Linked DNA regions of Homo sapiens: region 1 is linked to region 2. Evidence: fine-mapped expression QTL. A gene starts in region 2. The other region holds a variant in brackets. All regions are shown on one strand. Distances are from middle to middle.

What was found.
Region 1: its variant is fine-mapped to the expression of GIMAP7 in monocytes after interferon gamma (Fairfax 2014, PIP 0.95).

What each region holds. Positions count from the first base shown.
Region 1 is chr7:150,751,748-150,767,250 of GRCh38, forward strand. It overlaps LOC105375566 (a long non-coding RNA gene), which reads right to left. Exons shown (of 4, transcript XR_928163.2): 3 at 13,105-14,229; 4 at 9,840-9,880. Among named protein-coding and RNA genes, the nearest start is that of GIMAP5, 22 kb to the left of the region's middle. RefSeq lists silencers at 3,847-3,896, 3,937-3,996. The variant T/TA (reference allele first, on the strand shown) is at 7,532.
Region 2 is chr7:150,503,338-150,518,840 of GRCh38, forward strand. GIMAP7 (GTPase, IMAP family member 7) reads left to right here and starts at 11,535. Exons shown (of 2, transcript NM_153236.4): 1 at 11,535-11,608. It also overlaps the pseudogene STRADBP1. RefSeq lists enhancers at 11,257-11,416, 11,427-11,686.

The sequences.
Region 1 (15,503 bases), 250 kb after region 2:
TAACTATTTAGTAATTTCTTTGTAAGTGGCTCTGAGGATATTTTTAGCACCAGTACTGCCTCCTAGAATCTCTCTGTTCTTTAGCCAGGTCCCAAGGAAGCTAATCTAATCTGGTTGCAAAGTCTGTCCCACAGTACGCACAATTCAAATAAGAGTTATCCACCCACAGCTCTGGTGACACAACTCAAGCCTTGCTTTTACACCCAAGCAAGTGCTGATGTTTTGGATAGAAACCAAAGCACTTTCTGTCATCCTGCAATCCGTGAGAGGGCCCTTCAAACTGAGTGTGATGGTCATTCTTATGTGTCACTTAGCAAGGCCATAGTACCCAATGATCTAACCAAACACTAATCCAGGTGTTGCTGTGAGGGTATTTTGCAGATGTGGTTAATGTGAAGTAACAATTACCTTCCAGAACATAGAGGGAAATCATCCAGGCAGTTGAAAGTCTTAAGACAATAACCGATTTCCCAGAAAAGGAATTCCACCTCAAGACTGCAGTGTCTACTCCTGGCTGAGTGTCCAGCCTGCCCACCTGTACTACAGATTTTGGACATACCAGACCCCGAAATCACATGAGCCAATTTCTAGATATAAATCTCTTAATAGATATATATCTCTTAATAGATATATTCTGTTTCCCTGGAGAAACCTGGCCAATAGTCAAAACTGATTATTGCTACTGATACTCAGAGAAAGAGCAAACCTGAACATAAATCTCATCTTTTTGGCCAGGCGCAGTGGCTCATGCCTGTAATCCCAGCATTTTGGGAGGCCGAGGTGGGTGGATCACCTGAAGACAGGAGATCGAGACCAGCCTGGCCAACATGGTGAAACCCTTTCTCTACTAAAAATACAAAAATTACCCAGGTATGGTGGCGCATGCCTGTAATCCCAGCTACTCAGGAGGCTGAGGTGGGAGAATCGCTTGAACCCAGGAGGCGGAGTTTGCAGTGAGCCGAGATTGCACCACTGCACTCCAGCCTGGGTGACACAGTGAGACTCTGTCTCAAAAAAAAAAAAAAAAAAAAACTCATCTTTCCAAGGATGATTCTTTTCTTTTCAAGAATGATATTGGGGTGGACATTTTTTAAAGATGTGATTGCATGAGGGGGAAGGCAAATGGGAAAACCAACCATTTTTTCACTCCATCTTGCTGCAATGCTGATGGTTTAGAACTCAAGACTCTCTGTTTTCTCATGTGCTGCCCCTGGATTGTCTTGAACGGTGGTCTCCACAGGAGCCGGTAAGGAGGGGCTCCTGAGCATCAGAGGAAAACAGGTGGCACTGGTAGGTGCCTGGAAAGGTGTGTGAGGAGAAGATAAGGCGATGCTGAAAGAGCTGCAGAGGGGTAGGTGGACTTGGAAGCGGATATTCCTACACTGGGGGAGGCCAGGGACCTGGCAAACTTGGCGGTCTTGTAATACCATCTACCCCTTTTAACTACCAGGGAACTAAGATTTCCAGGGTTTCCTAAAGCAGCAGTGACATGAGGCCAAGTCTGCACCCGAGATTGAGGGGGTGAAAGGATATTAAAGGGAGAAGGCAGCTTTTTCAGGTGTTTCAGGGCAAACTGAGTGCCTGTAGGGCCTGAATCTGTGGCTGCCCCTGTGTGCTGAGAGGGATCAGCCCTCCGGGAAAACATGCAGCAAAGCTATTCACGTGCTGTGTTTGGCCAAGAGATTGGTGGCGGGCCATTTCCTCCGAGAAGGAGAACCTGAAATTGCTACTGTCTCGGAATCCAGCCTGAACAGAAAGAGAAGTGAAAAGGGTGCTTCTCAGAAACATCAGGATTGTTCTCATTTGCCTCAATTATTTTATTGAGGAGTTTTTCCTCTCCAGTCACAGTGCTATCCCTCTAGCCCAAACCACCACTACAGAGAACCCCACCCAAGTGCCACACCAGCCCTCTGGACAGCACTATCATCGCTCCCCTCCAAAAAAAAAAAAAAAAAGCCTATTCTGGGCTGGCCATCAACTCACCTCACTCATCTTATATCCATCAATCCTTCCATTAATTCATTTTAAAATGGTATTAAATGTCTCACACATGGAATATGGTTGGACCAGTTTAACCTGTCCAGGCACAGTGGCTAATGCCTGTAATCCCAGCACTTTAGGAGGGAGGCCGAGACTGGAGGATCACCTGAGCCCAGGAGTTCAAGACCAGCCCTGGCCACATGGTAAAACCCCATCTCTACCAAAAAAAAAAAAAAAAATTAGCCTGGCACAGTGGTTCATGCCTATAGTCTCAGCGACTAAGGAGGCTGATGTAGGAGGATCACTTGAACCCAGGAGGCCAAAGTTGCAGTGAGTCATGATTGTGTCACTGCACTCCAGCCTGGGTGACAGAGTGAGACCCTGTCTCAAAAAGAAAGAAAGAAAAAGAAAGGAAGGAAGGAAGGAAGGAGGGAAGGAAAGGAAGGAAGGAAGGAAGGAAGGAAGGAAGGAAGGAAGGAAGGAAGGAAGGAAGGAAGGAAGGGGAGCAGCTCATGCCTCAAACTGGGAGAGCATCATCTCTAAGCTAATGAGAGTAAAGAATGGTTCCCTCCACTATGAGGGACATGGTGGAGAAGGGGAAGGTGGAGACCCCCACTGGAAAAACTGTGAAATGCTCTGAAACTAGTGGTTGACCTTGGACAGATTATCTTACTCTCATTTGCCAAAAGTAGCAATAATATTCTCTCTACTTCCCTCACTGGAGTTTCCAAAAGATAAATGGCATGCTGATTAGAAAAACATAACGTGCAGTTGTGAGGATCTGCCAGTTAGAGGGTTATGAGTCAGGGTAACTGCCTAGTAATAAAGCCCTTGCCATCTATGACTTCATTCTTGTGGACAGTGGAGTTTTAACTACTTCTATATATATATATAAACCACACTAAGCCAAGAATTTACTAACAGGGAAAATTATTGGGGCAAAAGGTGAGGAGTATAGGGGAACTCTCAGTATTTTTCATTCCCATTTTTCTGTAACTCTAAAACTGCTTTGAAAAATATATACATAAACGTAACTGTATATATATACATACAGTTATATATATATTTATATATTATATATTTATATATATTATATATACATATATATATAATATATATATATATATATATATATATATAACTGCAGATCATCTTGAGTCCTATTCCTGAAATCTTTCTCCCCTCTTTAAGATGGAAACTACTTCCATCAAGTGGAGTGGTATAGTCAACAACAAAAGGCAATGGGAATAAAATGAGATTGAAATCAAAAGATGAATTTTCAGCCTGTCCTTCAAAGACTATCCCCTACCTTCTGTGGAAGACCAGGGTGGGGGAAGGATGTTCAGGTGATCTTTCCTTGCCCTGCAATTTGTGGGGAAGCCATATGTGTACCCACATAGAGGGTGCAGCAGCCACTATGTGCATATATGAAAATGCTCTTGCACAAACACAAGAAATGAGCTCATCAGTATCACCATAGGGGTACCATCTGAGCTCATTCTATTCCAGACTTTAGGTTCTTAAAAATATAATATCAGTCATATTTTCAGTTAGCACATATCTGGGACTTTAGGGTATATGATTTTTTCTCCTAATTCAGGAATAAAGAAACTGAGGTTTAGAAAGATCAAGTGTCTTGTCCACGCTGGCACAGACTGTTACTGGTAGAACTGGGGGGTCGGGGTGGGGGAGAGAAGAGAAAATGAAAGAAAACAAAACAAGCCTTGTTATCTGCCAGGTCCTGGAATTTCTTGCAAGGTCTACAGATGGCCTAGGAGCAACCCTCCCTCTCCTAGGCAGTCTCTCTCACTGTCTTATAGGCTCTTTATAAAAACACAAGAGCAATGAGACATGATGAACCTGGCCACAAATTTGGTCTGCTAGAGAGAGAGAGAGAGAGAGAGAGAGGGACCATATCCCTGGGGACAGGAAAATAACAATGTGTGTGGGTTTCCGTACAAAGCCGCCCTCAGAGGGTGACTCAAGGCCCTGAGAGACAGCCAGGGTAAGAAGCTGTTTGTAAAACAGCTCTGCTTCCTTTTTCCCACCACACCTCTGTGATGCTTTTGTGCAAAACAAACTTTTTACCAGAATTAGCAGGAGCACTGAGACCCGGAAAAGCCACTAAACATCTGAATATGGCTGCATCCCAGGGAAGGCCAACAGCTGCCTGTTACTGGCCCAGGCTGGACATATACACATCTCCCAGCCACCATCTGCAGTGCGCCATAAAGAGAGTTTCTTATTTTTGTTGTTTTTTTTTTTGAGAAATGGGGTCTCCCTATGTTGCCCAGGCTAGTCTTGAACTCCTGAGCTCAAGTGATACACCTGCTTCAGCCTCCCAAAGTGCTGGGATTATAGGCATGAGCCTGGCCAAGAGAGTTTCCTATATTGAATTCTAGATGGCAGTGAGGACTGAACCCAAGGGCACTCTCCAGGTTCCACTGCACAAGGAGCAGGCATCTTTCTTGAAACATTTTATGGCTCCCTCTTACTTCTGCCAAATGCCCTGCCCTCAGGTTACCTGTGCTCTGACCTGAGGGGGAGGCAAGGCTTAGGAGATTTCCCCACCCAGGAGGATTTCATTTCCGCAGGGACCAGGAAGACATCTGACCCCATTCATGATGTGATTTAGCCAAAGTGACAAGCCCTTGACAAGTTAACAAGGGGCTCGGGAGAAGGGAAGAGGGTGGCCCCGGTCATGCTGGGAGCCTCTGTGTTGTGGTGGTGGGTGCAGGGGGAGTGGGCAGAGCTCCTCTCTGGGGACTTTCTCAGGTGAATGAGGCAGAGCTTGATCAGTTACTTGCACATTTGCATTTAGATGGATTCAGTTTTTAAAGAAATTATAAGCCAGAGAGTGAGATACAGGTGACTCCTGATTCTTTGATTTAGTTTGGAGAGGAGGGCGGTTCTAACGCAGATAACATATACAGTTCGCACTTTGCAATGAAAGCCAGATTTGACTTCCAAAATATTCTCTCATATTAATATTGTAATGTTCACTTTTCATATAATAACAGTTATAACTTTCCCTCTCTAAAAGTCTGTAGAATTATGGTGGTTTCATTTCAAAATGTGTTTTCCTAACAGTGAGATGTAAATAGAAATCTGGTAATTCCTAACAGGACTAAATTCTTATAAGATTTTTTGGACAAATCTAAAGGGAATCACTGATATGTCTCTCTCCTACCACAGACATGCAGGTAATAAAATAAAATAGTCAAAGAGTTTGAGAATCTTATCTCCTTTAAGTTCACAGTGTGCTAAGTAAAATAGAACTGTCAACTGTGGTCACATATCTTGCAAATACCACCCCCTGCTGTTTGTCTCTTAAGTTTGCTATGGTGAGTTTTTTGCTGTCTGGAAATTTGAACAAATGTTTTCTTTATGGCGCTGTCATTCTTAGAAAGCTCTCCTTTTTTGTCCCATTATTTAAAAATATATTACTTATGTCCACACAAAAATCTGCACACAAAGGTTTATAGCAGCTTTATTCATAATTGTCAAAACTTAGAAACAACCAAGATATCTTTCAATAGGTGGATGGATAAATAAAGTGTAGCACATCTAGACCATGGAATCTTATTCATTCAAAAAGTAACTGGGCTAACAAGTCATGAGAAAGCATAAAGAAAACTTACATGCATATTGCTAAGTGAACTAAGCCAATCTGAAAAGGCTATATACTGTATGATTCCAACTAAATGGTATTCTGTAAAAGGCAAAATGATGGAGACAGTAAACCAATCAGTGGTTGCTGGCGGTTCCAGGTGATGGAGGGAGAGATGGATAGGTGGAATATAGGGAATTGTTAGGGTAGTGAAACTATTCTGTGTGATACTATAATGGTAGATACATGTCACTACACATTCATCAAAGTCCATAGAATATACAACACCAAGGCTGAATCTTAATGTAAACTATGAACTTTAATTAATAATAATTTATCAATATTGGCCCATCAATTACAACAAATGTATCACACTAATGCAAGATGTTACTAATAGGGGGAATTGCTAGGGCAGACGGTGAGGAGTATAGGGGAACTCTCAGTATTTATCATTCCCATTTTTCTGTAAACCTCAAACTGCTTTTTAAAACAAAACCTATTAATTTTAAAAAGGGGGAGATTAAAGAAGATAAGATGAGGAAAGAGTGAGTAAAAGAAGGTGGGATAGGGAGAGAGGAGTTGAGAAGGGATGAGAAGAGGAGAGAGTGGGAAAGAGGGGAAGAGGAAAACAGGGAGGAGAGGGGTAGGAGGGAAGAACAAGGGTCACTTGCACACGGTAAACTCCTTACCCTATAAGAACTTATTATACAACACATTGGAGAGACAGCCAAGATAACTAAGTTGTCATTAGATTAAAATTATATGAATAATATGAAGGTGTGAAGTGAGTCTTATATAACAAAAGCCTTATATTAACCCAAGATGTAGATCATCTTTTATACTGCTACTCTGTACGACTTTTATGGTTCGTAATAAATGCTTTTATTTTTCATGATTCACCTAACAATATTTTCTTTATCTAGCTACTTTTTGTTTTTTGTTTGTTTGTTTGTTGTTTTGTTTTTGAGACGGAGTCTCGCTCTGTCACCAGGCTGGAGTGCAGTGGCACTATCTTGGCTCACTGCAACCTCTGCCTCCCAGGTTCAAGCAATTCTCCTGCCTCAGCCTCCCGAGTAGGTAGGCGCCACCACACCCAGCTAATTTTTGTATTTTTAGTGGAGACGGGGTTTCACCATGTTGGCCAGGATGATCTTGATCTCCTGACCTCGTGATCTGCCCGCCTTGGCCTCCCAAAGTGCTGGGATTACAGACATGATCCACCGCACCCGGCCCTTGTTTTGTTTTAAGCCTGCTTTGGCTTATCTGTATCTCTCAGTTAATTCCCAGGATGGATGGATAGATAGATAGATAGATAGATAGATAGATAGATAGATAGATAGATAGATAGATTCATAGATAGATAGATAGATGATAGAATACAGATATTAATATCTAATAATATAGAGATCTATAGGCTAATAATTGTATATAATATGTATAATATATGTAATAGCAGAGAAGTGGGACTATGATAATTTGAGGCCTTAAACTATCTGTGAATATATACAATGTTATTTAATGATACACTCTAATTAATTAAAAACATATAACTCCTGTACCAAGGACTAAACTTTTTTTAAAGGGTGAACAAATAATAAGTCAATAGAGGAGATGAAATAGAATCATAATTCCAGTAAATGCTCAATTACCTCAAGAGAAGGCAGGAAAAAATAAAGGACAGATGGATTAAATAAAAAATAGCTAAGAAAATGGTAGATTTTAATTCAGTTATATAATAACACGAAATGTGAATGATCAAAATATACCAATTAAAAGACAGAAATTTCCAGATATGATTTAAAAACAAGACCTATGTATATGCTGCCTTAAGAAAAAGTCACTTTAAAAACAAAGACATAAATATGTTACAAATAAAAGAATATTAAAAATGTATACCATCAAACAATATCCAAAAGAAAGCTGGAATAGCTATATTCATGT[T/TA]AAAAAAAAAAGAAGCTTTATCAAGTTGAATGATGAAGAAAAAGGTGAAATTTTAAAAAAATAAAAAATAAAAATAAATAAAAATTTTTTAAAACTTCAGAACAAAGAGTATTATCAAAGGTAAAAAGAAATACTACATAATGATAAAAATGCCAATTTACCAAAGTAACATAACAATCCTAAATGTATATGAACTTAACAAAAGAGCTTCAAAACTCTTAAAGAAAAATTGAAAGAACCAAAAGCTGATATAGATGAATATCTACATTACAGTTGGAGATTTTAACACATCTCTCTCAGTAATGGATAGAACAAGTAGCTAGAAGATCATTAAGTATGTAGATGACTTGACCACTATCAACCAATTTGACCTATTGACACTATTGACCTAATGACACTATTGACCTATTGACACTTGACCTATAGCATACTTCGATCAACAACAGAACACACATTCTTCTCAAATGCACATGGAGCATTCACCAAAATAGACCATATTCTGAGCCATGAAACAAACCTTAACAAATCTAAAACAATAGAAATTACATAAAGTATATTTTTACACCAAAATGGAATTAAATTCAAAATAAATAACAGAAAGAATCTAGAAATTGTCCAAAGATTTGAAAATTAAACACATACTTGAAAATAACCCTTGGGTACAAGAAACCTCAAGGCAAATTTCATTTTATTATACTTTAAGTTCTAGGGTACGTGTGCACAACGTGCAGGTTTGTTATATATGTATACATGTGCCATGTTGGTGTGCTACACCCATTAACTCGTCATTTACATTAGGTATATCTCCTAATGCTATCCCTCTCCCCTCCTCCCACCCCACAACAGGCCCTGGTGTGTGATGTTCCCCTTCCTGTGTCCAACTGTTCTCATTGTTCAATTCCCACCTATGAGTGAGAACATGCAGTGTTTGGTTTTTTGTCTTTGCGATAGTTTGCTGAGAATGATGGTTTCCAGCATCATCCATGTCCCTGCAAAGGACATGAACGCATCCTTTTTTATGGCTGCATAGTATTCCATGGTGTATATGTGCCACATTTTCTTAATCCAGTCTATCATAGATGAACATTCCGGTTGGTTCCAAGTGTTTGCTGTTGTGAATAGTGCCGCGATAAACATACGTGTGCATGTGTCTTTATAGTAGCATGCTTTATAATCCTTTGGGTATATAACCAGTAATGGGATGACTGGGTCAAATGGTATTTCTAGTTCTAGATCCCTGAGGAATCACCACACTGTCTTCCACAATGGTTGAACTAGTTTACAGTCCCACCAACAGTGTAAAAGTGTTCCTATTTCTCCACATCCTCTCCAGCACCTGTTGTTTCCTGACTTTTTAATGATCGCCTTTCTAACTGGTGTGAGATGGTATCTCATTGTGGTTTTGATATGCATTTCTCTGATGACCAGTGATGATGAGCATTTTTTTATGTGTCTGTCAGCTGCATAAATGTCTTCTTTTGAGAAGTGTCTGTTCATATCCTTCACCCACTTTTTGATGGGGTTGTTTGTTTTTTTCTTGTAAATTTGTTTGAGTTCTTTGTAGATTCTGGATATTAGCCCTTTGTCAGATGAGTAGATTGCAAAAATTTTCTCCCATTCTATAGGTTGCCTGTTCACTCTGATGGTAGTTTCTTTTGCTGTGCAGAAGCTCTTTAGTTTAATTAGACCCCATTTGTCAATTTTGGCTTCTGTTGCCATTGCTTTTGGTGTTTTAGACATGAAATCCTTGCCCATGCCTATGTACTGAATGGTATTGCCTAGGTTTTCTTCTAGGGTTTTTATGGTTTTAGGTCTAACATGTAAGTCTTTAATCCATCTTGAATTAATTTTTGTATAAGGTGTAAGGAAGGGATCCAGTTTCAGCTTTCTACATATGGCTAGCCAGTTTTCCCAGCACCATTTATTAAATAGGGAATCCTTTCCCCATTGCTTGTTTTTGTCAGGTTTGTCAAAGATCAGATGGTTGTAGATGTGATATTATTTGTGAGGACTCTGTTCTGTTCCATTGGTCTATATCTCTGCTTTGTACAAGTACCATGCTGTTTTGGTTACTGTAGCCTTGTAGTATAGTTTGAAGTCAGGTAGCGTGGTGCCTCCAGCTTTGTTCTTTTGGCTTAGGATTGACTTGGCAATGCGGCCTCTTTTTCGGTTCCATATGAACTTTAAAGTAGTTTTTTCCAATTCTGTGAAGAAAGTCATTGGTAGCTTGATGGAGATGGCATTGAATCTATAAATTACCTTGGGCAGTATGGCCACTTTCATGATACTGATTCTTCCTATCCATGAGCATTTGTTTGTGCCCTCTTTTATTTCATTGAGTACCAAAGCCTGGCAGAGACACAACAAAAAAAGAGAATTTTAGACCAATATCCCTGATGAACATCGATGCAAAAATCCTCAGTAAAACTGGCAAACTGAATCCAGCAGCACATCAAAGAGCTTATCCACCATGATCCAGTGGGCTTCATCCCTGGAATGCAAGGCTGGTTCAACATACTCAAATCAATAAACATAATCCACCATATAAACAGAACCAAAGACAAAAACCACATGATTGTCTCAATAGATGCAGAAAAGGCCTTTGACAAAATTCAACACCTTCATGCTAAAAACTCTCAATAAATTTGGTATTGATGAGATGTATCTCAAAATAATAAGAGCTATTTATGACAAACCCACAGCCAATATCATACTGAATGGGCAAAAACTGGAAGCATTCCCTTTGAAAACTGGCACAAGATAGGGATGCCCTCTCTCCCTCTCTCACCACTCTTATTCAACATAGTGTTGGAAGTTCTGGCCAGGGCAATCAGGCAGGAGAAAGAAATAAAGGGTATTCAATTAGGAAAAGAGGAAGTCAAATTGTCCCTGTTTGCAGATGACATGATTGTACATTTAGAAAACCCCATCGTCTCAGCCCAAAATCTCTTTAAGCTGATAAGCAACTTCAGCAAAGTCTCAGGATACAAAATCAATGTGCAAAAATCACAAGCATTCTTATACACCAATAACAGACAAACAGTGAGCCAAATCATGAGTGAACTTCCATTCACAATTGCTTCAAAGAGAATAAAATACCTAGGAATCCAACTTACAAGGGATGTGAAGGACCTCTTCAAGGAGAACTTCAAGGCAAATTTTAAAAATATGTTTAAATAAGTTGATATAAAATGCCAGCAAATCAAAATTTATGGAAGAAAGCTAAAGGAGAGCTTAAAGGAAAAATTATAACATTAAATGCTTATACCAGAAAAGAAGAAAAACCTCAAAAAATTAATTGCTGCATTCACCTTAATAAACTAGAGAAAGAAGAGTAACGTAAACCCAAAGCAAGCAGAAAGGGGAGAAAAGATAAGAACAAAGTTATGAAATTAAAAACAGAAAAAAATAGTAGAGAAAAATAATAGAATCTCAAAACTGGATCCTTGAAAAGGTTAACAAAATTAATGGGTACTATCCTCACTACCAAGGTGATGGGATCCATACCCTAAATCTCAGCATCATGCAATATACCCATGTAACGAACCTGCACATGTACCTCCTGTATCTAAAATAAAAGTTAAAAAAATTAATAAACCTCAAAAAATGGTTTATCAAGATAAACTTCTCTCCAAAGAAGATATTCAAATGACCAATAAGCACATGAAAGATATTCAATATCACTAGCTATTAACAAAATGCAAATCAAAACCACAATGAAATATCACTTCACACCCATTAGGTTGGTATTATCAACACACATGCACACACAAAAAAATAAAAAAAAATAGCAAGTGTCAGCAAGGATGTGAGAGAAATTGGAGCTCTTGTGCATTGCTGGTGGGAGTGTAAAATGGTGCAGCTGCTGTGGAAACGATATGATGATTCCTCAAAAAAATTAAACATAATTACCTGTGATCCAGCAATTCCACTTCTGGGTATACACCCAAAAGAAGTGAAAGCAGAGACTTGAACACATATTTGTACACTGTGTCCATAGCTGCGTTATTCACAATAGCCAAAAGGTGGGAGCAACCCAAGTGTCCATTGACACATGAATGAATAAACAAACATGATATATTCATACAATGGAATATTATTCAGCCTTTTAAAATAAGGAAATCCTGACTCATGCCATCACCTTCAATGGCAAAAACTCTGATTACTTTTGCACCAAAAGTACACTTCTTTAAGGAGTCCTGGTTCCTTTCATTGGGGAATGGCAGTATAGCAGTTTCTTATAAATGGAAAATAGTTTTGCAATTTCTTATAAAGTTAAACATGCACTTACCATGTGACCCAACAATCCCACTCCAAGGTATTGACCTAAGTTAACTGAAACCTTATGCTGACAGAAAAACCTGTACCTGATTTTTTTTTTTTTTTTTGAGATGGAGTCTCACAGGCTGGAGTGCAGTGATGCTATTTCAGCTCACTGCAACCTCCGCCTCCTGGGTTCAAGTGATTCTCCTGCCTCAGCCTCCCGAGTAGCTGGGATTACAGGCATGCACCACCACGCCAGGTGAATTTTTGTATGTTTAGTGGAGAAAGGATTTTGCCATGTTTGCCAGGCTGGTCTTGAACCCCTGACATCAGTTGATCCTCTTGCCTCAGCCTCCCAAAGTACTGGGATTATAAGCGTGAGCCACTGTGCCTGGCCCTGAATGTTTATAGCAGCTTTATTCATTACCAAAGCTAGAAATAGTTCAGCTGTCTTTCACAGATGAAAGGGTAAGTAAGTCTGTGTATATCCAGACAATGGGATACCATTCAGCAATAAAAAGTATCAACCCACAACACATGAATGAATCTGAAATTCTTTTTGCTAAATGAGAGAAAATCCAAAATGTTACATACTGAATGATTCTATTTATATGGCATTCTGGAAAAAGCAAAATTATAAAAATAGAAAACAAATCCGTGGTTGCCTGGAGTTGGGGGAGTCCTATGAAATGATGCCCCACTAAAGGGCCTCATTAGGAAACTTTTGGGCAGTCCAATTGTTCTGAGTTAAACTGTCTTGTTGTACACGTGACTCTATGCCTTTCTCAATCCCATAAACCTATACACCACAAAGGGTAAACTTTGCTGTATACAAATTTTTAAAAAATCAACTGAGATCTTGGGGAAATCCAAGATGAAAAGCGGACTGCTAAAATGAATCTAACCGTATTACAAATAAAAAAACATAACCATACGGAAGTTAGGAGGGAAGAAACGAGCTGACCTAAGTGCCTTTGTAAAGCAATGTTTTGACTGGAGAGTGTCAGGCCAAAGACAAGAAGAACAGTACAGAAGCAACAAACTCTCATTGGTAAATTCGTTTTTCACAAACAACCCTAAACCTATGGTATACTTGGGCTCAAAAATAATTAAATATAGTGTAAGCTATGGGATCCACTTTTCTCATTGTCAGAAAGAAGTTACAAATAAGCAGAGATAATGCTAGAATAAATCCTGGTGCTGGACTGGAGTTAGAAATATCAGTATGAACTCATGGTTGATTTATTTTTAGTAGATACAAAAATATAATATGTGTGCATATATGGGTCAGTTATACATACATGAATTACCTAGCTCTGCCCACTGAGAGAGAGGAGACTATGAGCAGTGACACCAGTAGCAATGAGCACAGCCAGCACTCAGATCTTGATTTCGAAATGCCGTTCCCTGATGAAAGGAACCAGGACTCCTTCAAGAAGTGTAGAAGTGGCTGATTCCAGGGCTAGGATAGGGAAAATAAATATAAGATGAGCCTGGAACACCTTATAGTGCCAGAAAGTAAAGAAGTGAAAACAGGATAAAGCATGTGAAAAATGCAGAAGAGGAGGCAAAAATTTGCCCCTCCTCTTTTATGGTTTTGTTGTTGTTGTTGTTGGGGGTTTTTTGTTTTTGTTTTGTTTTCTTGTTTGTTTGTTTGTTGCCTGGGCCTGGAGAATTAAATAGACATAAGACAAATCAACAGGAGAAAAGTATATAAATTATTTAATGCAAGTTTTTTAATGGCAGGAGAGCATTCATAAGGAAATGAAGACACAAAGCAGCAGCTAGAGTCAAACATTTATGCCCTGAATTGTGAAAATGTAACAAGGCAAAGGGGCTTATGCTAGGGTAAATAACTGGGTAAATAAGTAATTAGGAACATAAGGGATGCTTGTATAGATTCCTATCAGCCTCAACTTCCTATCCTTTGTGATGAGAATGTTACTTTCTTCTTGGTTTAGGGAGAACACCTTTCACATGGGAATTTCATCTCTGGCTTTTAAAGAACAGTGAAGGTCAGAGTGATCTTCTTGCATCTCCTGTTTTTATGTGCCTTTAGTTTAAAATAATTCTGATGCCAAAGTGGCATATTTGGGGATGATGTGTTCTGAGTGACATGTTTTGGGGTAGTGTATTCTGAGCCTCTTCATTCCCCATTTGAAACTTTACTTTTAGAAAGTTTCATATGTTAAAAGCCAAGTTAGTAGCTGTGAGCAGATTTGGGTTGGAAGTTGTGAAACAAGAGATCAACGAAGGGAAAGAAAAACAAGGATCGGAACACACAGAAGAACAAATATTCCCCGTATCTTATTGACACAGCCTTTTAGTCCTGAGAACAGTTCAGTTGAACAGTTGCGTCTCATTTTAGGAGGCCGTGTTGCAGTTGGGCTTCCATCCAAGTTGAGACTTCATAATGTAAACAATAAGAGGCATTTCTTTTTTTTTTTTTTTTTTTTTTTTTTTTTTTTTTTTTTTTTTGAGATGGAGTCTCGCTCTGTCGCCCAGGCTGGAGTGCAGTGGCGCGATCTCGGCTCACTGCAAGCTCCGCCTCCCGGGTTCACGCCATTCTCCTGCCTCAGCCTCCCGCGTAGCTGGGACTACAGGCGCCCGCCACCACGCCAGGCTAATTTTTTTGTGTTTTTTAGTAGAGACGGGGTTTCACTGTGTTAGCGAGGATGGTCTCGATCTCCTGACCTCGTGATCCGCCCGCCTCGGCCTCCCAAAGTGCTGGGATTACAGGCGTGAGCCACCGCGCCCAGCCCAATAAGAGGCATTTCTATGGAAACAAAAGAAAAATAAAGGTTAATGTTTAGGGCAAGTTATAAGCCCAGCTTTTGAGTCCAGAGGGCAATCAGTTGGTAAAGGGTACTATAGGTTGGGCTCAAAGCATCTTTAGATAGAGAGTGAAGATAAGCAGTGGTAATTCTGATCAATTTCCTGATTTGCAGTTTGAATGTCTCTGGTGAGGTCATTGGGTGTTCCAGTGGACTTTCTGAGTGGCCTACACAGCAACAGGCACAAAGGTTGCTTATATATTAGTTGTGGTAGTGAGTTCTCTGAAGTTTATATCAAGTCATCCAGTTTCAGCTTGCAAAATTTCAGGAAAAGGGCAGCTTCAGTTTTCAGTGATGTCAAGTCAAGAGAGTAGGAGAAAAACATGAAGCATTAGCCTGAAGATTTGTTGCCGGATATGGGAGGAAATTAGAGTTTAATATCTAATCCATTCTACATATAGATAACAAAACTTCAAAGACAATGAACAGTACTAGAATCCAATAACGGGTACACTATAGTTTTTGTTAATATAATTTTTCTCTCCACAGTCACTCCCACTTTTACCAAACATAATCACAGTAAGACTAATTTTTTTACAAAATAAGTCTAGTCACATTAAACTTGTCTTGATTATTTATATAATGCAGCAAGAATAGTGATTGATCGTATAGGCTCTTTTTAAGTCTGCTTTGCTGGAACTGCTAATAAGGAATCTAAAAGCCTCTCAAGTCTAGGAAGCCAAGCCAAGAGCTTGTCATTAGATTTTGCCTGTAACACCTCTAGATTTGGGTGAGTTCCTCTGTTCTCGAGGTCTCCAAAATATTTTTAAGGCTCCTGGGCCTGCATGAAAGTTACCTTCTTTACTCAACTATAAGGCTAGGAACTCTGTGAGCAAGGTACCAGGCTGGGGGTTTTTTAAGGGGCCTTATTCGCC
Region 2 (15,503 bases):
GGTATCTGTAACTGTCTGCACATTACTCATATGACCACAGGGACTCGATAGCACTGGGAGAAGAGGGCTTGTGCTAATATTGCTCCCTCGTGTCGGACTCTTCAAGAGAAGTCCCAGGACTGTTCTGTCCCTTGTGGTCTCCCTTTGAGGATTATTGTTCTCTGCACCACTTTGTAGGTTTATAACTATATTCTGACCAACATACCACCTTATAGGTTTGTAACTACGTTCTGACCAACATCCGAGAAGTACTGTGGGTAGGTGGGCCAGGGCTCATGATTTGAGAGAGTCTGGGAATTTGTACTAATTTGGTAAGGCCTAAAGATACTGGGGCTTAGTAACATTATGTTTTCCCTTCAAAGCCGTAGATATTACTAGTGGCAGAATCAGACGCACACACTTTTCCGCTGACACTGCATTTTGTATAGTAATGGGAGACATCCAGTACTGATATGCTAACATGAGAATCTACTACTGAAGGTCATGGAACAAAACAGGTGTCATGGGGCTGACAGAAAGATACTGTTTACTCTTAAACAACTCAGATAAAGTTAGTAATCTTGTGCTGACAGTGTGCCCCAGGGAGAAGGCCCCTGTATATTCAATTGCATTAAAGCTTGTTTTGTTTTACTTTAAGGGATAAAACCCTCCTCTTTAGTGATAAAACAGTTGTTTTGATATAAATTGGGAATTCTGTAAGAGTAGGCAATTGGCTCCTGCTGGTGAGACTGGGACATGCTTTTAGGCAGAGGTGGCCTTATAACCTGCTCAGCTCTTCCTGTTTCAATTGTCTGCCTGCTCCTCATAGGATTCAAAGGTCTGTTTGCACACCTTAATTTCCTATGTCTGTCTTTAAAGGTAACACTTTTTTTGGTCTTGGTGTATATAAATTGATGACAAAAGTTAAATACTTCTGCAAAAGGATCTGAGTTTGGAAAGGGTAAAGTAAAAGGGAGTGGGTTGAAGGCACCTGCAGAGTCAGAGAGACCTGGCAAATGAAAAGTCCCCGAGGAACAGTCTCAGGTAGTGTCTAAAATGACCTTCGGAGAAAGCCACAGCTGCTTCTCTCATCAGTGAGACTTTCATGTTCCATCTGGGCCAGATGTGTGGGATGAGGAATGAGGAAGGATGTACAGGTGCACTTCACTTTATTGTACCTCATTTCATTGCACTTTGTGGATGATGCGCTTTTTACAAATTGAAGATTTGTGGCAACCCTGCATCAAACAAGTCTGTTGGTGCCATTTTCCCAACAGCAAGTGTTCACTTTTTTGTGTCTGTGTCACTTTTTGACAATTCTCACAGTATTTCAAACGTTTTCACTATTATCTGTCCTGATGATTTGGGATCAGTGATCTATGATGTCCCTATTGTAATTGTTTTGGGGTGCCACAATCTGCGCCTTACAAGATGATGAACTAGTTGATCATTGTGTGTTCTGACTGCTCCACCATGCAGCTGTTCCCTTGTCTCTCACCCTTGCCTCAGGCTTCCCTATTCCCTGACACAACAATATTGAAATCAAGTCAGTTAATAACATTACAGTGGCCTCTAAGTGTTCAAATGCAAGGCAGAGTTGCACATTTCTCACCTTCAACCAAAAGCTAGAAATGATGAAGCTTAGTGGGGCAGGTATGTGAAAAGCTGAGACAGGCCAAAAGCTAGACCTCTTGCACCAAACAATTAGCCAAGTTTGAATGCAAAGGAAAAGTAATTGAAGGAAATTAAAAGTGCTACTCCAGTGAATATATGAATGATAAGAAAGCTAAACAGCCTTACTGCTGATATGAAGAAAGTTTTATTGGTCTGGATAGAAGATTAAGCCAGCCGCAACATTCCCTTAAGCCACAGTCTAATTCAGAGCAAGGACCCCACAATTTTATAAAGTCTGACAGAGGTGAGGAAGCTGCAGGAAATAAGTTTGAAGCTAGCAGATGTTGGTTCATGAGGTTTAAGGAAATGACCTGTCCCCATTACATAAAAGTGGAAGGCGAAGCAGCAAGTGCTGATGGAGAAGCTGCAGCAAGTTATCCAGGGGATCTAATTTAGATCACTGATGAAGGTGGCTACAATAAACAACAGATTTTCAATGGAGACAAAGCAGACTTTTGTAGGAAGATTATACATCCAGGACTTTCATTGCTTGAGTGGAGAAGTCAATGCCTGGCTCCAAGGCTTCAAAGGGCAGGCTGACTCTCTCATTAGGGGCTGATGCAGCTGATGACTTTAAGTTGAAGTCAATGCTCACTTACCATTCCAAAAAACCTTAGAGCTTTTAAGAATTATGTTCAATCTATTCTTCCTGTGCTCTATAAATGGAACAACAAAGCCTGATGACAGCATATCTGTTTATAGCACGGCTTACTGAATTTTTTTTTTTTTTTTCTTTTTTTATTGATCATTCTTGGGTGTTTCTCGCAGAGGGGGATTTGGCAGGGTCATAGGACAATAGTGGAGGGAAGGTCAGCAGATAAACAAGTGAACAAAGGTCTCTGGTTTTCCTAAGCAGAGGACCCTGCGGCCTTCCGCAGTGTTTGTGTCCCTGGGTACTTGAGATTAGGGAGTGGTGATGACTCTTAAGGAGCCTGCTGCCTTCAAGCATCTGTTTAACAAACCACATCTGGCACCGCCCTTAATCCATTTAACCCTGAGTGGACACAGCACATGTTTCAGAGAGCACAGGGTTGGGGGTAAGGTCATAGATCAACAGGATCCCAAGGCAGAAGAATTTTTCTTAGTACAGAACAAAATGAAAAGTCTCCCATGTCTACCTCTTTCTACACAGACACAGCAACCATCCGATTTCTCAATCTTTTCCCCACCTTTCCCCCTTTTCTATTCCACAAAACCGCCATTGTTATCATGGCCTGTTCTCAATGAGCTGTTGGGTACACCCCAGACGGGGTGGTGGCCGGGCAGAAGGGCTCCTCACTTCCCAGTAGGGGTGGCCGGGCAGAGGTGCCCCTCACCTCCCGGACGGGGCGGCTGGCCGGGCGGGGGGCTGACCCCCCCACCTCCCTCCCGGACGGGGCGGCGGGCCGGGCGGGGGGCTGACCCCCCCACCGCTTACTGAATATTTTAAGCCCACTGTTGATACTTCTGTTTAGAAAAAAAGATTCAAAATATTACTGCTCATTGACAAAGCATTTGGTCACCCAAGATCTCTTATGGAGATATACAAGGAGATTTCATGCCTGCTAATACAACATCCCTTCTGCAGCTCATGGATCAAGGATAATTTTGACTTTTGAGCCTTATTATTTAAGAAATATATTTTATAAGGCTATAGTTGCCATAAATAGTGATTCTTCTGATAAACCTGGGCAAAGTAAATTGAAAACTTTCTGGGAAGGATTCACCATTCTAGATACCATTAACAACATTCATGATTCATGAGAGGAGATAAAAATATTAATGTTAACAACAGTTTGGAAGAAGTTGATTCCAACCCTCATAGATGACTTGGAGGGGTTCGAGACTTCATTGGAGGGAATCACTACAGATGTGGTGGAGGTAGCAAGAGAAGTAGAATTAGAAGTGGAGGCCAGGTGTGTTGGTTCATGCCTGTAATCCTAGCACTTTGGGAGGCCAAGGCAGGAGGATCACTTGAAACTAGGAGTTTGAGACCACACTGGGCAACACAGTGAGATCCTGTCTCAACAAAAAAAAAAATAATTAGTAAGACATGGTGGTGTGTGCCTGTAGTCCCAGCTGCTTGGGAGGCTGAGGTGTGAGCATCACTTGAGCCCAGGAGCTCAAGGCTGCAGTGAGCTATGATCACACTACTGTACTCAAGCCTGGGTGACAGAGTGAGACCCTGTCTCTAACAACAACAAAAGAAGAATGTAGGCTGAAGATGTGACTGAATTGCTGCAATCTCATGATAAAACTTGAATGGATGAGGAGCTGCTTCTTATGGATGAGAAAAGAAACTGATTTCTTGAGATGGAAATGACACTATGAGAATGAAAAGGCATAAGAATGATACAATGGACTTTGGGGACTTGGGGAAAGGGTGGGAGGGAGGTGAAGAATAAAAGCCTACACACTGGGCACAGTGTACACTGCTCAGGTGATGGCACCAAAATCTCAGAAATCACCACTACAGAACCTATCCCTGTAACCAAACACTACCCAACCCCCCAAAACCTATTGAAATAAAAAATAAATAAAATCTCCTTCTTCATCTCAAAAAAAAAAAAACTACTTTTGGCGAAGATGCTGTGAACATTATGAAATGACAACAAAGGATTTAGAATATTAAATAAACTTGATAAACAGCAGCAGGGTTTGAGAAGATTGACTTCAATTTTGAAACAAGTTCTACTATGCTTAAAATGCGATCAAACAGCATCACACATGCTACAGAGAAACATTTTGTGAGAGGAAGAGTCATTCTATGTGACAAACCTCATTGTTATCTTAGTTTAGGAAATTGCTACAGCCACCCCAGCCTTCAGCAATCACCATCTTGATCAATCAGCAGCTATCAATACTGAGGCAAGACCCTCCACCAGCAGAAAGATTATGACTCACTGAAGGCTCGGAGGATTGTTAGCATCTTTTAGCAATAAAGTATTTTTAAATTAAAGCGCATATATTGTTTTCTAGACATAATGCTATTGCACATGTAATAGATTACGGTGTAGTATAAACATAACTTTTATATGCCCTGAGAAACCAAAAAATTCATGTGGCTCTTTTTATAGTTACATTTGCTTTATTGCAGTTGCTGGCATTGAACTTGCAATATCTCTGAGGTGTGCCTGTAGTATCTATAAAGGGGTGAGAAGGGTACTCAGCATACAGTAAGTGATCAGCAAGTGTCAGCTAGTAGCAGTGGTGTCAGCAATAGTAATGGTAATGGTAATACTCTTGATGTCAGTCCCAGGATCGTGGTTTGGTCTCCTTAAGCTCACGTATTATACAATTTCACATCATAGGTGTCCAGATACATAAATAGAACTGAAGGCCCTAAAGGGAGAGACAGAGTTGGCGGGCTTGGAAAGCACTTACCTCATGTTACCTATGCACTGCAGACAGCCTCAGCCTCCAATTCCAAGAAAGGACTGTGCCTTATTAGCAGATATGAAAGTTCTCAGATGCTGTTGATTCATGGTTCAGCAGCTCCTCCTCTGCCTGTGTATCTGAAAACACTTCCCTCCTAAGTCTTCAAAAAAGGCAAAATCATAAGCCTTTGCTACAAAACATACCTTCCTTCAGGCAGGGATCAATGTGGGTACAGACATTGGGCCTGACCCAGTTTGTCTTCTATCTGGACCGTCGGATAGATGATGGGTGATGAAGGCACCCAGGGACACCGGCACTAGGGCCATATCTAGAGTGTGATGTCTGAGAGTGGTTTTCACTTAATCAGGTACAATAAGGCCACTACTGAGGAATAGTGATTAACATTCTATGTGAGGCTAATGCCTCCAAAACCCTTCAAAACCCTCCCAAGAAAATTAACATGGTAGCTGTCATCTAGGCTCCTCGTCTCACAGGCAGTAAGTCAGTCCACTACCTGTCACGCTGGGAACCTCTGCAAATTTTGGAGACCTCACAAAAAAGGAAAATTCACCTACATTTATAAGAACTGCATGAAAAATCTATTGGAAAAAGTGTCTTTGTCTTGGTTTTCTACATTTGTGATAGAAAAACAAATAATAGAACTTTTCAAGATTCATTTTGAAAATTTCCAAATAGAAGTTCATTCTTTGGCATTGGTAGTTATTTAATGCTGTTAGGCTCTGGATTTCCTGAGCAAGCTTAGGAAGGCCTATCTGGCTAATTAAAACTCTTGCTGTATATATGTAAATAACCAAGCTGTACATAATAATGGCATTGAGGGATCAAGAATAATTGTTGGAGATTATGTATGATCACAAGGTAGAAAATGACATTAAAATGATCCAACATGTGGAAATAAGCAAAAGGCATTATTGGGTATTCTTTCTGTGTGATGCGAGGCTTGACTACTGTCTAAGATACTCAACTCTGTTGAGAGGTAACTTGCAATTTTGCTTATAGACAAGTAAATAATTTTTTTGTCTGGCAGAACGTATACCCCAAAATTACATTTTATGGCTGATATGGTTTAGGTCTGTGTCCCCGCCCAAATCTCATGCCAGATTGTAATCCCCAATATTGGAGGTGGGGCCTGGTAGGAGGTGATTGGGTCATGGGGGTGGTCCTTCAGGAACAGTTTGGCACCATCCCTTGATGCTGTTCTTGCGATAGTGGGTAAGTTCTCATGAGATCTGGTTGTTTAAAAGTGTGTAGCACTGCCGCCTTCCACTCTTGCTCCTGCTCCAGCCTTGTAAGATGTGCATGCTTCCCCTTTTCCTTCCAACATATTGAAAGTTTCCTGAGGTCTCCCAAGAAGCCATCATGCTTCCTGCACAGCCTGTGGAACTGTGAGCCAATTACACCTCATTTCTTTATAAATTACCCAGTTGCAGGAATTTCTTTATAGGAGTGCAAGAACGGGCTAATACAATGACTATCTTAGGAACAGTCATTAAATGGGCACAAGGGAAATCTTATCCCCCTACAAATTACCCAAGATTCTCAAATGTCCTTTGAACTAATTATAATGTCTTACTGGTTTTCTCGTTAATCAATAAGTTAAGTAAAATCTTTTACATGCATGTATTTTAAATTTGCATGAAAGTCATGACCTTGCTTTTTTTTTTTTTTTCCTAATTTTACTTTAACAGGAAACACAGAGAAATACCACAAGCAAAGCCTCAGTAGTGGGACTATGAGACACAGAGAAGATTAAATGACTTGAGGAGGGATCTGCTGGGGTCTGAATGTTTGTGTATCCTCTTCCAAATTCATGTATTGAAACCTAATCCTGAAGTGATGGTATTAAGAGGTAGGGCCTTTGGGAGGTACTTAGGTCATCATGGTGGAGCCCTCGTGAATGGAGTTAGTGCCCTTATAACAGGTTAGAGAGAGGCTCCCCGCCCCTTCCACCATGTGGGGACACAGCAAGAAGGCACCATCTATGAATCAGGAAACACACCATCACCAGATAACAAACCTGTCAATACTTTGATCTTGGATTTCTCAGCCTCCAGAACTGTGAGAAACAAATTTCTGTTGCTTATAAATTACTCATTCTACAGTATTTTGTTATAGCAGTCCACACAGACTAAGACAGGATCATTAAAAGCATTTGCTGAGCACCTGTGCTATTTCAGAAACTGCCTTTATACCTCTGTCTCCTTCAGCTATGTAAAATAGGTATTAACAGGAACTGTGATTGGAATTTTAGGTAAGCAGAGCTGCACTGAAACATTAAGTTGCCTCTCAAGGAGAGGAATAGAGGAAGATTTGGCCCAGAAAGAAAGATTGAAACACTGTAACAATAGCTGAATTCCAGGCTAAGCAATAAGGATGCTAAACCTTATGCAGTAAGAACTTCCCAACTACCATGACATGGACTGTCCGCATGGGCTTCACCAATTCATTGCAACTGGGACTGCAAAGGAAGAGATCTAGGGTGTTTCACTCTCAAAATGCATACACTGTCCTTTCTTATTTAACCACCAATTTTCTATCACAATTTAGAATTGTATCCACTAAAAGAAATGTTCAAGATCTAACCCCTAGGACTTGAGAATGTGACCTTATTTGGGAATAGTCTTTGTGATGTAATCAAATTAAGATGAGGCTGTGGGGCAAGCTCTTCTAATCCAATGACTTTTTTCCTTAGAAAATGAGTGAAATTTGAATAAGCACACAGGGGAGAAAACCGTGTAACTCTGGAGGCAGAGATTGGAAGGATGCATCTACAAGTCAAAGAGTAGCAAGGATTGCCAGAAACCACTAGAAGCCAGAAAGAGGCAAGGAAGGATCCTCCCCTAGAGTCTTCAGAGAGAGTGTGGCCCTGTTGACACCTTGTGGCCTCAAGAACTGTGAGATGATAATTTTTTCTTGTTTTAAGCTACCCAGTTTGTGGTAATTTGTTACAGCAGCCCCGGAAACTAATACAGACTTGATATTGGGAGGAACAAGTGACTGTTGCTTTATATAGCAGAGCAGTCTTTGCAGATGTGATTAAATTAAGGCTTTCACAGTGAGGAGATTATCCTGGATTATCTAGGTGGGTTTAAATGTAAACACAAAGATCTTTCTAAGGGGGAAACAAGAAAGTCAAAGAAGGAAGACAATGTGAAGATGGCAGGAGAGATTGGTGCGACGTGGCCACAAGCCAAAGAACACTAGTAGCATAGAGATGCTGGAAGAGGCCAGGAACAGATTCTCTCGTGGAGCCTCTAGAAGGTACCCTGCTAATTAGCCTGATTTTATCCCCATAACACTCATTTTGGACTTCTGACTTCCAGAACTGTAAGAGGAAAATTTTATGTTGTTTTAGGCCACTACATTTTTGGTAATTTGTCATGATAGCAATAGGAAGCTGATACTCCAAGGTTACATAATCTGTGTAAGAGCTAGGACAGTACTATACCTTTCATCTCCTGTTATTATTTGTGCACTATCTTAATAAGTTAAGCTTTGCATTGATTTAGCATCATGGCGGCAGAAGAAAAGCCCCGAGTTTTGTGCACACACACACATACACATACACACAAAATCAAAAACATAATGTTCTTTTTTTATTTTTATTTTTAAACACAGTATTCTTTTTTAATACATTTCAAGCGAATCACTTAATGTGAGTGAGGCTGAGTTAGATGTTACCATAAGTATTAACAGAAGAAAAAGGGAAAGTAAAGACATTTTCCCTCTACCATAAAAGGGTCTGATGCAAGATAAACTAGCCTGTTGGTTTAACAATAGCTCATTAAAAAGGCCAGACAATCTGGGAGAAGAAGATGTACTTAGAAGCACTATCCTTTGAAGGACCATTCCCAAGAGGACAGCAAAATATTGAAAAAATTAACTGGCTCAAAAATTATATTGAGAGATCAAGACAGTTAGCCACAGCTTAGAAAAATTTCCTGAATAAATAACACTAACTAGCTAGGTTAGTAGTTCTGATGTTTCCTTGGAGTTGTCATAGCACTCTGTGTGAACCAAAGGGACTACAAACTGATGCCCCTTTGAACAGAGTGATTTGAATAGATTCTCCAGTGCACCAACTGTATTTTCAAGTATAATTCTGGTATTTGTACCTAGCAATACAGAAGAAAAAGCAGCAAGGAGAAAGTGTCAAGTATATAGGACATAAGATGATTTGCCAGCCCTAGCTAGAATTCCCAATATGAATCTTTTTCATCAGGAAAACCACATTCTGGCTCAGTCCAAGGTAACACCGGAGGCAGTGATATTGATGGCTTGTTATAAGCAGGAGGCAACAGTGAAAGTACCGAATCCTGGCTTTCTTCTTTCATCTGTTTGAAGAAAACATGGGACAATAAACTGCTTGCTGATGGCCTTTTCTCCGGATCTTGTTGCAAACACAGCTGTACCCAGCTAAAGAAGGCAGGAGAGAAGGTTTTTGAGGATGGTGTGTGTAATCGGTCACTATTTACTGTGTGAGTTCCACTGGAGACAAGCACACTTGCTCCAATCCCAGAGTCTACACCTGACCGGGAATTTTTCATTTTGGATTCTGATTGAGGGAAAATACTGATATCCAATGGGCTATAAGGGGGACCTTTCAGTTTCTGTTAACAGCATCTGAGTTCTATGCACGTCCTGGAAAGGCACCTGCCCACTGGCTAATTCACATGTTGTAATCCCAACACTGTAAATATCTGACTTCACATTATACCCATGTAAATCCTGTCTCAGTAGTTCTGGACTCAGCCATGGCTGCACTAATGTGCTGAACTGTGGGAAATCATACACAGCCCTATGCCTCTGTCCATGCTTAACCAAACTATGCAGATGGGACAGGCCAGAGAGGGTCACTAGGCCATCACCAGAAATGAGGATATGGCTGGCTTTAATTCTCCTGTGAATACAGCCATATTGGTAGAGATAGTTCAATCCTCTCACTGCTCCAAAGAGAATGTTTCTTATTAAAGTTTTACTCATTCCTTCAGGAAAATAGGTCCTCAAGAGTTGTCTTGCTGAACCATAGGCCATAAATGGAGAAATAACCCAAAGCCAGCTGCCAACAGTGAAAACTGTCCAATAAGTTGTAATATTGGGATGCCGGAAAAAGTGGGATAGAATCATGGCTTTCTGTAAAACTTTCAGGCGTTCTTTATTGCCGTTTTCCAGATTTGTAATTTTTGTAGTTACCAGCGTTCCCGTAGGAGTATGCCGTGCTAGATGGACAGAAGTCAACTTGTCAAATCCTCTTCCTATTTCTACTTGGAGCTCGTAGTGAGAAACGTTGGCGGAACATACTACTTCACTGGCTCTAGTGGATGGAGGCGACCAGGAAAGGGTTGGCTCTTCGACCAAGTATTGATGGATACTGGTTTCAGACTTGTTTTTCATGTTTGAGTGATTCAACTTGTGTTCTTGAACTAAAGCTCACAGAAAGTGACAAAAATCCAAATATTCCAAAGAAGGCTTTTGTTTTATCTTCCTTTGAAGATGCAGATATATCCTACTTAGCGGCGACGACGGCCAGCGACTCCCTACAGGCTGCCAGTGGTGCGGACCTGGGCGGGTGCCGGAGCCCGGATCACAGAGGGGCAAGGCGAGCGCTCTAGGCCCACTCCTGGCGTGGGGCGCTGGAGGGTGGCAAGGCCGCGACAGGGGCTGTGGGCTTGGAACTCTAAACATAGTATTCTTACGTAGCCAACTGGAATATCTGGTCAACCGTGAGAGCTTTGGGAACCTGCCTCTCACCTCAAGAAACCTCCAGAGCAGATTGGAACCATCCACTGGGTAAATTCTGGAAAATCTGTCTCTGCCTGAGACTGGGGTAGGAAGATGTGGGGTAGAGAGGAAGGTGGGGAAGGGATGTAGGATCTATTCCTTGGGTGCATCTTTACTTGTTAGGTCATGCATATTTTCAAACTTGGAAGAATTATACGAAAAGCAACTAGAGAAACTATGTGTTCATGGGCAGATTATTTTTCCAGGCGTCACCTTCCTTTTTTTCCCTTGGTTCCTAATGATTTAGACTCTGCCTTTGAGCCTCAGTGCTGTTAACTTTTGAATGAGTAACTTGAGGCCTTCCTGAAAGACTATAATAAAAAACCCATATTATACAATCACTAAGAACCCCCAGCTCTACGCTTGGAAATGGCAAGGTATATGCCTGTCTCTCTTCTTCCCCAAATCACCCCTCAGCCTCCCACTCCACCCTGGGAAGACAATCAGGTCCTGTGCCTTGTTTTCTAGGCAATATTTGGGTCATTTAATAAGGCTCTTTTGCATCCATCACTATAACCTGAAGCGAAAAATGTAGCTTTGGAAATGGTGTTTATAGCAGGCCCATGGGCAAAACGTTTCAACCGGGCAAAACTGAAGCAATCACCAGATTATGGAGCCGTATTTCTGTTTCTTTAAAGACAAACATTTTTGTGTGTGTGGCTCCACCCAGCCTGAGCTTCCTGACTGAGAGGTTTTGGTGGCGGTACAGACACTTTTAACTCACAGTAAAAGCAAAAGCAACAGCTCAAGCAGCCTCCTTGGAGAAAACCTGAAAATTCAACTTGTTCAAGAGAAGGTGAGCCTGGCTGAGAAGAGGGTCTGGTGCTATTGGGCTGCGAAGGGCAGTGGGGACAGGGTGTGTGGCTGGAGTGGACTCTGCCCTTAGGAGGGACAAGGCACTGTGCTAAGCAGCACTGCATAGAAGGTGCTGTGGGAGGGGTGAGTAGAAGGGGAGTGAGGAGATTTGTTTGCATGGAGCCCATGCATCTCATATGTAACAGGACACACATGGCTGCATAGTGCACCCTCCACTCACTGGCTGTTGTGATAGACACAGAGTGTTGCCTGATAACCTTCATAAGAAATTAAGGGCTCCTAAGACAGATTTGTAAAGGTGACAGGCAATTTAGAGTCCACCTGTCTAAGTCCCTCTTCTTACAGAAAAAGAATCAGAATCCCAATCCCAGAGATTTTGATGATTCTCCAAGGGGTACCCAGATCACTCATGGCGGAGGAACACTAGAATTCAGTCTGCTGACTTTTTCCAGCATTAAGCAGAGACAAGCTGTGTCCCTAACAGTGTAACATGTGGGGCTGCTGCGCCATTCAGTACAAAAAGAGTTGCCATAAAAGACCTTTATAGAAATCACTCTATGAAAGCCTAAGGACAACCCTGCAAGATTGGTTTTATTTTCCTTTTTTATAGCAGAGGGAACTGGATCTCAAGGAGCTACGAAATTTTCTAGAACCGGTGGGTCTGGCCACAGTTTAGAACTGTTCACCTCTGTTGTAAATGCTTTTGTCATTTCTCAGCCTTTCTCTTAGCTGGAGGTCCTCTGGATCTTCCAGGAACCACTTGAGAAAGTTTTAAAACTTGAGAAAGTTTTAAAGTGATATTTCTGACCATCTCTCTCACGTTTGGCTTCTCAATATGAGAGAGATGGAAAAGTCCACGAGAAATGCGGAGCCCTCCTCACGGTTCCCTTATAACAGGCTGGCTCCCAGCTCACCTTTTTGCAGAAAGCGTGGATCATCTCCTTTGCCCTCCACTGGTCTATCTCTGTGCCATGTCAATGAAAATTTAGAATCATGGCCTGAGAGTAGCCAAGAACAGGCAGTAGAGTGCACGGTTAAGAGTGAGCATGGTAGATTCAGACAGACTTTGAATCGAATGTCTTCTCTGCCCAATACCTCTTAGCACAGTGACCAGGGGCATGTTTCCCAGAATTTTTGAGCCACACCAGCTTCCTCATTTAAAAAATTAGAATAATAAAATTAGTTTCACTGTAGAGTATTTTTGAAGAATAAACGAGATATACAAAACATGTTTTATCAGGGTGTTCTGATATGCAGTCTCTGCTCGATAGTGGTTACACTATACATGGGTTAATTTTTTTATTTGTGAAAAATTTATACTTATTCAAAGGTAAAAACAATATAAGGAACTTCCATGTACCTATATTAAAATCTCACAGTTATCAATTTATGCCAGTCTTGTTCAAATATCTGCTCCTATTCTCAACTCTATCACAGATTATTTTGAAGCAAATGTCAGACATTACATCATTTTATCAGTAAATATTTGAGTATGTGTCTCTGAAAGATAAAGACCATTTAAAAACATTTCCACAATTTCATAAACAGCCTTCAAAAGGCAACTATAAATTTTAATACTACCAGTTGTATTCAGATTTCCCTGAAGATCTCATAATTTTTAAAATTGTTTGAGGTAGGATCTAAGTAAAATTCATACATTACAATTGTTTGACATCTCTTATGTTTCACTTAATGTGTAGGTTTTCACCTTCCTTGTTTCTTTGTGTTAAATTTCTTTGTTTAAGGAAGGGAAGGTCTTTTGTCCAACAGAACTGGGCAGTATTCATACTGCTGATTGCATCCTAACAATGTCATTTAACATTCGCTTCTAGCTCCAGTGTTTTGTGTGAATTTATATGAATGGGGAGGTTGGATCAGATTAAAGTTTGACTTTGTTTTTTTAGTGGGAATACTTCATAGATGCTATCCTAAACTTCTATTAGAAGGCACATATGTTTGAATGCCTCTCTTTTTGTGATGTTAGCAGATGTTAATGATTGTCTAGAATGAATTTGTTTCATTAAAAGTTACCAAAAGATGATATTCTATCATTCTTTATTTATTTATTAGATGGAATAGTCATACACAAAGGAACTTTCATTCAGTGATTCTTTCATTTTTGTGAGATATAGTTAAAAGATGAGATGTATGAAAGACAAAATAAATGCTTCTTTCCCTTTAGTTGTCAATGTTCAGAATGATGAGTCACTTTCTTAGCATACTCCAAAGGGAGCAATTAACTTCTTTCAGGAAGATGGTGTTGTTATCAACTACTGGATTTCAATATATTTGGTATATTTTAATCCATTGGAATAATCTTTATTAATGATGCTCAAATTATTCCATCTTTGTCCAGTTGGAACCTCTTTAAGGTAGCTTCCAAGCCCTTCTGATAAAACTAAGTAATTTTTTATAGCATCCCTACTTTCTAGTATGAAAGATGTTGTAGGCTAAACTTGTATGTTTACTGGCCCAGACCTGGAATCAGTACTTTTTCCTAGTAGTCCTAATTTCTTTTGTGGGAAATACCATTTGAAGATCACAATCTGGGCATTAAGTGCACTCACTGCTACTTGGCTGACCATGGTTTATGCCTTTTAGATGGACTTCAAAACAGTACACACACACACACATACACACACACACACAGTGAAATTATTAATACTACATTTTCAAGCCTTTCAGGACAAATCTTTGTGTGGTTCATCCTTGACACAAGATACAGTTAGGTTTATTTGTTCCGTTTCTTTTAACTTTTACTGGTGTTTTAAAATATAATTTTTATTGTATAATTATGTAAACTATTTAAATGTTCTCAAGATCAAATTTGCAAAAACAAAGGATATTCAAAGAAGTCTAATGACCATTTTCTGTTCCTGTCCCTTGTACCTTGTTTCTCTCATCTTCATATAAATAATTCTTTTGTTTAGTTTTCAAATGGTTCTGCCATTGCTTTTTCACATGCACATAAAAATTATTTATATATATAAAACTAATATTCCTTCTTCTTATATAAATGATAGTAAACTATACATTATTTTCTTCACTTGGCTTTTTTTCACTTAGCAGTATATCACAGAGATCTCTTCATACTGGTATATAGATATATTTCTCATTCCTTTTTGCAGTTGGATTGTACTTTTCTGTATGAATATTCCTTAGTTTATTCAACTGGTCCCCACTGATGGGCATCATTCCTTTCTGTATTTTTGTCAGTGCAGCTCTGGGATAAATCCTAAAATCGGGATTGATAATCAAAGAGTAAATGCATGTGTAATTTTTCAAGGTATTGCCACCTTCTCCTCTATAGGTGTTAGGTTGTTTTCCCCTTCACACTAGTCATGCAAGAAATTATCTGTTTTCCCCATACCTTTACCACCAGATTATGCTGGGAAATGGATTTTTGCCATACCTATAGTAGAGAAATAGTGATCTCTGAGAATTTTTTATTTTTTCTATGTTTTTAATTATTTTTCTCTATTGTGAATGAACTTGGATATCTTTTTATGTATTCAAGGATAATTTATATATTTTTTTCTTTGGCCGTGGGTTCATATCTTGCCCGATTTTCTATCAAGTCATTGGTCTTTTGTTTCTTTACTTTTAGCTATTCTTCATACAGTAGGAAAAGTAGCCCTCTTTGAGATAAATCGGAAAAAATGTTTTCCTAGTTTGATATTTGTGTTTTAATTTGCCTATGGTGTTGTATGCCTTACATAATTTTTTGGATTTTTGTGTAATCAAACTTATCAGTCTTTTCCTTATACTATTTTAAATCTTAGTTATTAACATCCTCCCCACTCCCAGGTTACAAAAAATTTACCCGTGTTTCTCTTATTATTTATATGGGATAGTTTTTGCATTCAAATTTCTGA